Linked DNA regions of Homo sapiens: regions 1 and 3 are each linked to region 2. Evidence: fine-mapped expression QTL. A gene starts in region 2. Each other region holds a variant in brackets. All regions are shown on one strand. Distances are from middle to middle. Region 1 overlaps ISM1 (isthmin 1). Region 2 holds the start of ISM1 (isthmin 1). Region 3 overlaps ISM1 (isthmin 1).

Region 1 (2,800 bases), 33 kb before region 2:
GGGGCACAGCGGACCCCTTGTAGTTTCACTTAGGTCTACCATGCCATGTACATTGTACAATTTGTGCATGGTGCAAAGATGTCTGATGAGGGGGCAAGTAATGGCTGAAGTTGAGAATGAAGGAAGTGATATTGTCTTCCCAGAGGGAATGACTTGTTGTAATTCATATAGAGGCTTATAAGTGCTAATAGATGCCCTAGTGTCGCACTTCTTTCTGTCTACTCTACCTGCAAAGTCTTTCCTTCCCTTATCCACATAGAAAACTCCTATGCATCCTTTAAAACCTTATTTAGATACTGCCTTCTCTGTAAACCTTCCCTGATCTTCAGCAGAGTTAATCCCTCCTTGCTCCTCATTACTTCTCTACCATATATATACTTCTTTTCTTTTTCTATAAATTATTAGACATTTACTTATTTTTGTCCAGTTTCTGGCTAAAAACACACACACAAATAATGACTGAACTGTAAACTCAACTGTACAATGGGGTAAATTACATTAGCCATGTTAACATCTTCAAGTCCCTTATTACTTGCTAACAACAAAAAGAGCATTTTATCCATTTTTTCAAATTCCTCTGCCACTGTCCTAGTCCAGGTTGCCATCATTCTCTCTTCTATCCTTCAAGTCTCAGCTTAAATGTCACCTCCAGAGAGAGAGGACTTCCCTGATCATCTTATATAACCAGTGTTCTTTCCCACCCTTTAAAAGCTCCCCTCTATCATTCTGCTTATTTAATTTGTAGTATTTGTTAGCTGAAATTATTCTATTTATGGGCTTTCTTCTGTGTTGTGGCCCCTACCAGGATGTCAGAACCATGAGGCAGGGACCGTGTCTGTTCTGTCACTTCTGTGCCTCAGCACTTGGCCTAGAGCCCAGTACAGAGTAGGACCTCACTAAATGCTCTCTGAATGAATGGAAGGGACAATGAATAGATGGAAAAGGAAGGAATGACAAACAGGATTTCAATGCCCAATAAGTGTGGCCACAGTTGACTCCTCCTACATCTCTCGAACCATGTGTGGATTCTGGGATGTGGAAGGATGAGAAGAAGCTCTGGCAGAGGTGGAAAAGTTCTCCCTGGCTCTGTTCCTGTGTTGGCCCTTACCTGTGTGGTGACCCCGAGTCCTGGCACAGGATGGCACAGTCATCTGCCTCTGAGTGATATCATGGGTAGTGCCCAGCTTCTCCCTTTGCCCAGAGAGAGAATATAGAGACTGTGCTGGAGGTACCAACAGCTCTTGCCACCTGCCTGTGACCAAGTCACCACTGAGCACCCAGCAAGTGCACCAAGGAGCAGCCCTGGCAAAGCAACAGAGAGCAGC[A/G]GGGGTTTAGGAAGCAGGTGCAGAAATGAGGCTCAGCAGGAGATGCGGGGGGCAGGTATTTTGCTCTCTTGAATTCAATTCTGATTCTGAACATTTTCTGAATCTGCTTGCTTTTCTTCAAAGTCAAATATGAATTCAAATATTTTCTATTTGTATATACATCTGTTTATACTTATATATACACATATTTAAAGTATATGTATATGGTTATATAAATATAAATATATATTTGCAGATATAAATACACATTTGCTTTATTTATTTATTTATTTATTTTTGAGATGGAGTTTTGCTCTGTCGCCCAGGCTGGGGTGCAGTGACGTGATCTTGGCTCACTGCAACCTCCCCCTCCTGGGCTCAAGTGATTCTCCTGCCTCAGTCTCCCAAGTAGCTGGGATTACAGGCATGTACCACCATGCCTAATGTTTGTATTTTTTTTTTTTTTTTTTTTTAGTAGAGATGATGGGGTTTTGCCATGTTGGCCAGGCTGGTCTTGAACTCCTGACCTCAAGTGATCCGCTCACCTCGGCCTCCCAAGGTGCTGGGATTATAGGCATGAGCCACTGTGCCTGGCCCATAAATACACATTTATAAGTGTGTTTTTATGTGTGTGTATAAACATACACACACACATATATATATATATATGGATATGGATGTGTATGTGTTATTTTAATTTTAGCTTTTTTTTAAATTTTAAGATATCTGAACTAGCCCATTGTTTCCTAGCTGAGCTCACAGAAAAACTGATAATGATACTGAGTTATTAATTTAATTCATGTGTTCTCAAAATGGGGGCCCCAGGCCAGCAGTGTTGGAATCGCCTGGAAATGTGTTTAAAATGCTGATTCTCGGGTCCTATCCCCTGTGGAATCAGAGCTTCTGGGGTGGGGCCCAGCAGCAGGTGTTTGAGCAAGGCCTCCTGGCGATTCTCTGCAGGCTCACATCTGAGAACCTCTGCTCTCACCAAGAGAAGGTGAGGAACAGTGGCTGATAGTCGGTAAGGAGCTATCATTCTGAATGGTACTTTGGCAATGGGAGATGCTTTCCAGGAAACACAGCGCTCTCAAAGAGTGCACTTTTATCTTGGAAAAGCACAATCAGATCAACAGCGAATGAGCTCCAAGGCCTCCCATCCAGCATGGGGAGACCCTCTGAGTGGTCACCCACTCCTCAGGAATGCCCCTATGATAACACCGTGAGGGAAGGCAGAGCTCCTCACCCTCTGGGTCCCTGGGTGAAGGAAGCTGCACACTGAGCAAGTGACATAAGAGATCAACACGCAGGGTGAGAAGATCAAAAACCCTGAAGGTGGAGGATGAACTGTGAGACTTGGTTCCTTCCTGCTTTTCCCTGTGCCAATAAATGCTAGCTTTGCCAGGTCTGCTTGGGTAGCAAGTACCCCAAATGGAGCAGCAACAGGCCTCCAACTGATTTCTCCCTCGCTGTGTGTCTGTCTCTAATTAAGCCACACA
Region 2 (2,800 bases):
ATAGCGGCAGGAAATGCCTAGCTGGGCAATTCTATTCCTAAGTCAGAACTCACATTATGTCTGACCGTCCACTACGCCCTCTCCTTGCCCTGAAGTTGAAATGGATAAACAGAATCCCATTGCTAAAGCGACCTTCAACGGGGAAGATCCTTGGGAGAAAGACTTTGCTACAAGTTTAAAAGCCCCAGGTAACCCTGGCCCAAATCACTACCGGTGCCTTCACTCTGCACCTTCCCCATGACCAAGGGGGCACAAGGGGGGAGGGGGGAACCTCAGGCGAGGCTCCCGGAGGAAGAGGAACACTGGAAGCAAGGGAACCCTGAGGGTGAGGAGGGGATGCCTGGCTATTCTCCTTGGGAAATTATGTCCTGACCTTTGGCATTGCTTCCTAAAGGGGTAGACTCCCGGAGTTCTTTCTCCCAAAGACTTCAGGGATATCATCCTATAAAGTCTCCTTGCGTCCCTCCAGCCTCGAGTAACATTACTCAGCCTCCGAAGGGCAACGAAAGACTGGTAGCACCCCCAAGCAAGCACATTCTCCACACTTCCTCTGCTCATCCCAAACCTCGCTCCTTCCCACCTCCCCACCAACCCCGCACCTGACCCGTGACAGACAGAACTGAAGGAGCGCAGCCCGCAGACCTGGAAGCCGGGTGCAGCCTCCAGGCACGTGCCCCCGCTCCGCCTCTGCCTAAGTCAAGTGGCCCGGGCAAAACTACTGCCAAAACAGTTGCTCTTAGGTGGGGCAGGGGACCTGCCTCCCTGCATCCACCCGGCACTAGCTCAGCACCCCCGCCCCACAAACCGTCCCCGCAGCCGCGCACGGCCCTCTCCGGCGGCGCACTCACCTGCAGCTGGGCTTGGCTGGCGTTGCCCGCGGCCGCGTCGGGCCCGTCGGCGGCTCCCGAGCCGCGCAGCACGGTGATGTGCAGCGTGAGCAGCAGCAGCCCCAGCAGCAGCAGCAGCTCGGCCGCCAGGCGCACCATCCTTTTGAGACGCGCGGCTTTAGGACCCGGCGCGGCGGCCGGCGGCGGCGGCGGTGACGCCGGGGGAGGAGGAGTAGGAGCCCGGGAGCCCGGCAGCGCGGCTCCCGCCTCGGCTCCCGCCAGGGCTCCGCTTCCCGGGCCCGCGGGGCTGGCGCTGGGCGCGGCGGGGTGTGCGGGGCCGGGGGAGCAGGAGCTGCCGGCGCCGCCGCCGCCGCCGCCGCCGCACCACGGCGGAGCCACCGCGAGGCCGGGGGTGTCCAAGCCGGCTGCGGAGCAAGCCCCGGCGCTGCCTGGCGGCGGCGGCGGCGGAGACGGAGACTGGGTCCCGGGACAGCCCGGGACCCGGGCCGGGCCGGAGGCCACCCTGCTGGCAGGGGGCTGCGGGGTCGGCGGCGGGGCGGGCGCAGCCGAGCCCCCGAGCGCACATGGGCGCCCCAGATGTGGCCGCGGCGCCGCAGCTGGAGCGGGAGCGGCCGCCAGAGAAGCGCGGGGAGGAGGAGGAGGAGAAGGAGAAGGAGGAGGAGGAGGAGGAGGAGGAGGAGGAGGAGGAGGAGGAGTAGGAGGGCTTCAGCTGCGGCCGGGAGTTACCTCCACGCTTGGCGCCCCCGCCCTCGCCGCCCCGAGCCACTCACCCGGCAAGCCACCTCCACTACTCTCCGCGCTCCTCGGGGCCGCCTGCCGCGCCGCCCCGCACTCGGAGTCCCGGGGAGGGCCGGTTCCAGATGGGGGCCCCGGGCACACCGAGGTTGTCACGGTTTGGCGGTAGCCGGGGCGCCCTCGGCGGCAGCGTCAGCCTGCCGGGCTGTACCAAGTGCCCGCTGCCGAGGTCGCTGTGACGGGCGCGGGTAGAGCCCTTGTGCACACTGAGGCTCGGGGCTGTGGGTGGGTGGGGTGGTGCCTGGGCTGCTTTAGAAACCTTTATTGGCAAACTGGAGCTGGAGTTGCAGTGATGGAAAACGGAGGGGGCGCCGGACAAGCCATGCGTCTGCCTGCGACCCCTGCCTGAAGCAGTCGGGGGAGAGGAGGAGTGCCAAAGTGTCGTTCCGAAGGGTCTTGACACTTGCTGGGCCGCCCGCTAGCCGGGCACGGCTGTTCGCGGATCCGCGGCGCCCCGTAGAGCCTGGGAAGGGAGGGGAGTCCGACTCTCTAGGCGTTCGTCTGGTCACGGGCGCAGGTGTTGGCTGGAAGCTGCAGAGACGCAGTGCCCGCGGCTCAGGCGCTCAGGAACTCGGAGTGAATCTCAGCTCTAGTGGGCTTGCCTCTGTGGGGGGCTCATCCCGGGGGTGCCGCGCCCAGAGGGGATTTGGGGGCTGGCGTCGCGCAGCTGTCGATCCCGGGCCACCGCCTCATGACCGCGCTGCAGCCTCGGGCTCCCGCGTGCGGCTCATGCCTTGCAGTGGGCGGTTGGCGAATGGAAGGGCTCTGGGATCCGGCTGAGGGCGCGGAGTCCGAGCGTCAGATGCTAGAGCGAACTGTGTCGGTCCGTGGCACCGCGCACTTCCCTCCTTGACCTTGCTCGGGCTCCCGCCTTACCGAAGTGACTCGGAGTAGCGGACGCTCAGTCCGGCCGGGACTTTTATACTGCGCTTCCCCTCCTCCTACCCGTTCCCTCCCTTCCTCCTCCCCAGCGCCGGCCCAGCCCTTCCCTCCCAGCGAGCCAAGACCTAGTCCACGCGTTCGCACACAGCCGCGTCGCACATTTCCAAGCCTTTCCCGCGTCCCGGACCCCAGTGCCTCCGGGATGGAGCCTCCGAATTCTCCCTTGGTGAATGAAATTAAATAAATAATCAACTCTTTCTTGACGGCACGCCTCC
Region 3 (2,640 bases), 40 kb before region 2:
TGCAATGCCCCTTTAGGAACTATTGCTGGCAGAGGGGAAACGGCCATACGTATGCTTCAGTCTTTGCTGGGCACTCTGACGACAGCCCTGAGAGCCAGTGACACAGGTACATCATGGGCTCAAGAATTCAGGAGGGTCTCAGTCCTGGTTTGGGAATGGAGCCTGCTGTCACGGTCTGACTAATAGCTGAGGAATCCCTAGTTATGGCGGCAGAATGTATCATAACGATGTTTACTTTAGGGCTTGGCAGTGACCTCGTTTATTATCTCAGGCTTTAGAAGAAATGAAGAATGGGCAACTCTTTGCATTTGGGTAGGGAGCTGGCTTTGAGGTGGAGGGGCCACCCATCCCTGTGTATCTCTCCTCATTGAAGGTTCTTGGGGCCGGCTGACAAAATGGAGATCAACACTTCACTGGTGTGTCTTGAATACTTCTGTAAACTGCTTTGATCTTGAAAATGTGCAGATTATTGGTGAATTTTTTCAAGTTGTGCTTTCTCCATTGCTGGCAAAGAAAACAGAGTGGTAGCTTTTCCAGGACCGATTTCTTTTATGTCCTGTTAGGCTAAAGAATGAACTGAAATGAAGGATAAATTATTCTTTCAAGTGTAAGAAAACATGTAAGAAGCAGAGTACACGAGTGGAAAGTGAGTTAGGCCAAAAAAAAAAAGAAAAAGAAAAACAAACCCTTCACACATCACCTAAAACATCCCTGCAAATGTAGAGAGATGGAGAAATCATACTTTCCAGAACCACTTTGATAAAGCCCTTGTGGTGTGAGGCCAGCCATCCTCAGCATCCAGTTAAGGGCAAGGCTTTCTATCAGCCTTCCAGGCTGCAGCTAACCAGCTCAGGGCTATAAAGGCCAGGCCACCAGTGGCCACCAGGGGGCTTCCATCCCTCCTCTTCAGCCCTGTTAGAGTTCAGCCACCCCTTTAAGTCAAACTTTGAGCAAATATTTAATGAGTGTGGATTATTGGTGATTTTCCAAGTTGTGCTTTCTCCATTACCGGCAAAGAAAACAGAGTGGTAACTGTCTAGGACTCGGTTTCCAGGACCCAATTTGAAGAGGCACCAGATCATTAGTGCACCTAAAAGGCCCAAGTATCTAAGTCCTCCTACGACCAGAGGGAACGGGTGTCGAACAGGACACCAGAAGGCGAACATCTCCTGCAGTGATTCTGTGTCTCCCTGCATAGAATGAGGGGATATAAGGCCCAGGCCAAGGCTGGTGTTCTGTTGGTGAGAGGGAGAACCTGGAAATTAAGCCAAAGGACATGGATGGCAGAGTTCAGAAGCTGAGGTCTGGGGTAGGGGTGGCCTAGGGACCCTTGCCAAGTTATTATCCTAATTAAGGAGATGGATTCTTCTCAACACTAAAGTTAAGAACCCTCATTGAAACCTATTGCTAATCTCTCTGCTCCAAGTACTTCTAAAATGGGTTTCAAAGGTCA[T/C]TGGACGTTAACCTTGGAATCCTGAAAAGGGTTCAGGGTACTGTGGAAAGGACTGGGGCCAGGAGTTTCAAGGTCTGGGTCTGGGTCCCAGCATTGCCTCTTCCTGTTTTGTGAGCTTTGGTAAGTTATTGCACCTCTGCACTTATGGTAGACTGGTTGGCAAAAATGTCCACAAATTCTTCTTTTCTCTAAAGATCCACGCCTCAGGTAGTTGCTTCCACACTCTTTGAGCTTCTTTTTTCTTTTTTTTTTTTTTGAGACAGAGTTTCACTCTTCCCTCTTGTTGCCCAGGCTGAAGGGCAATGGCGCGATCTCGGCTCACTGCAACCTCTGCCTTCTGGGTTCAGGCGATTCTCCTGCCTCAGCCTCCAGAGTAGCTGGGATTACAGGTGCCCACCACCACCACACCTGGCTAATTTTTTATATTTTTAGTAGAGACGGGGTTTTACTATGTTGGCCAGGCTGGTCTTGAATTCCTGACCTCAGGTGATCCACCCAACTCAGCCTCTCAAAGTGCTGGGATTACGGGCATGAGCCACTGTGCCTGGCCTTCTTTGAGCTTCTTACTGCGGCCAAAGGGACAACAGTTAACAGAGACTTGAAAAGCACTTGTGCCTTAGGATTGCCTATTTTTTTTTGCTCTTTGGAATGCTGAGAACACTCGGTGAAGAAGGCCAAGCTAGCCTGTTGAATGGTGAGAGACGTGTGCAGCAGAGATAATTTATACCAGATTCACCAGCCTGCCAATGGCCAGTCACTCAGATGGAGACTGTCCTAGACCATCCAGCCCTGGCTGAGCCTCCCCAGGCTATGAGAGCCACCCTGCTGACCCAGAGAGTCATGAGAAATAATAAATCCTTGCGGGTTTAAGCTAGTGAACCCAGTGTGGTTTGTTACACAACAAAAGCTGACTGATATAGGACCTTGGTTATTTATTCTGTGAAATGACCATGGTGAGGTAGAATGAGAGTTGCAGAAAGCCTCTCACTCTATTCAGCTCTGACTTCCTCGGAATGGAATCCTAAAGAGACACTTGTTCTGGAGAAATTATTTCACACTAACTTCAAAAAAAAAAAAAACTCCACTTTATTCCAAATGCTGAAAACATCAAATTGAGGGTGGGGAGATTAAATAAAAATCCAGTGGTTCACAAATGCATGAAATGTAGATTCTATCTGCAATGACTA

What was found.
Region 1: its variant is fine-mapped to the expression of ISM1 in whole blood (TOPMed, PIP above 0.99).
Region 3: its variant is fine-mapped to the expression of ISM1 in whole blood (INTERVAL, PIP above 0.99).

What each region holds. Positions count from the first base shown.
Region 1 is chr20:13,253,036-13,255,835 of GRCh38, reverse strand. The region is part of intron 1 of ISM1 (isthmin 1); the gene reads right to left. It also overlaps a transcript of TASP1 not described here. Among named protein-coding and RNA genes, the nearest start is that of ISM1-AS1, 15 kb to the right of the region's middle. The variant A/G (reference allele first, on the strand shown) is at 1,326.
Region 2 is chr20:13,219,963-13,222,762 of GRCh38, reverse strand. It overlaps ISM1 (isthmin 1), which reads right to left and starts at 1,489. Exons shown (of 6, transcript NM_080826.2): 1 at 849-1,489. The coding sequence starts at 986. It also overlaps a transcript of TASP1 not described here. RefSeq lists silencers at 1,058-1,127, 1,587-1,706.
Region 3 is chr20:13,260,495-13,263,134 of GRCh38, reverse strand. The region is part of intron 1 of ISM1 (isthmin 1); the gene reads right to left. It also overlaps a transcript of TASP1 not described here. Among named protein-coding and RNA genes, the nearest start is that of ISM1-AS1, 22 kb to the right of the region's middle. RefSeq lists a silencer at 719-1,013. The variant T/C (reference allele first, on the strand shown) is at 1,454.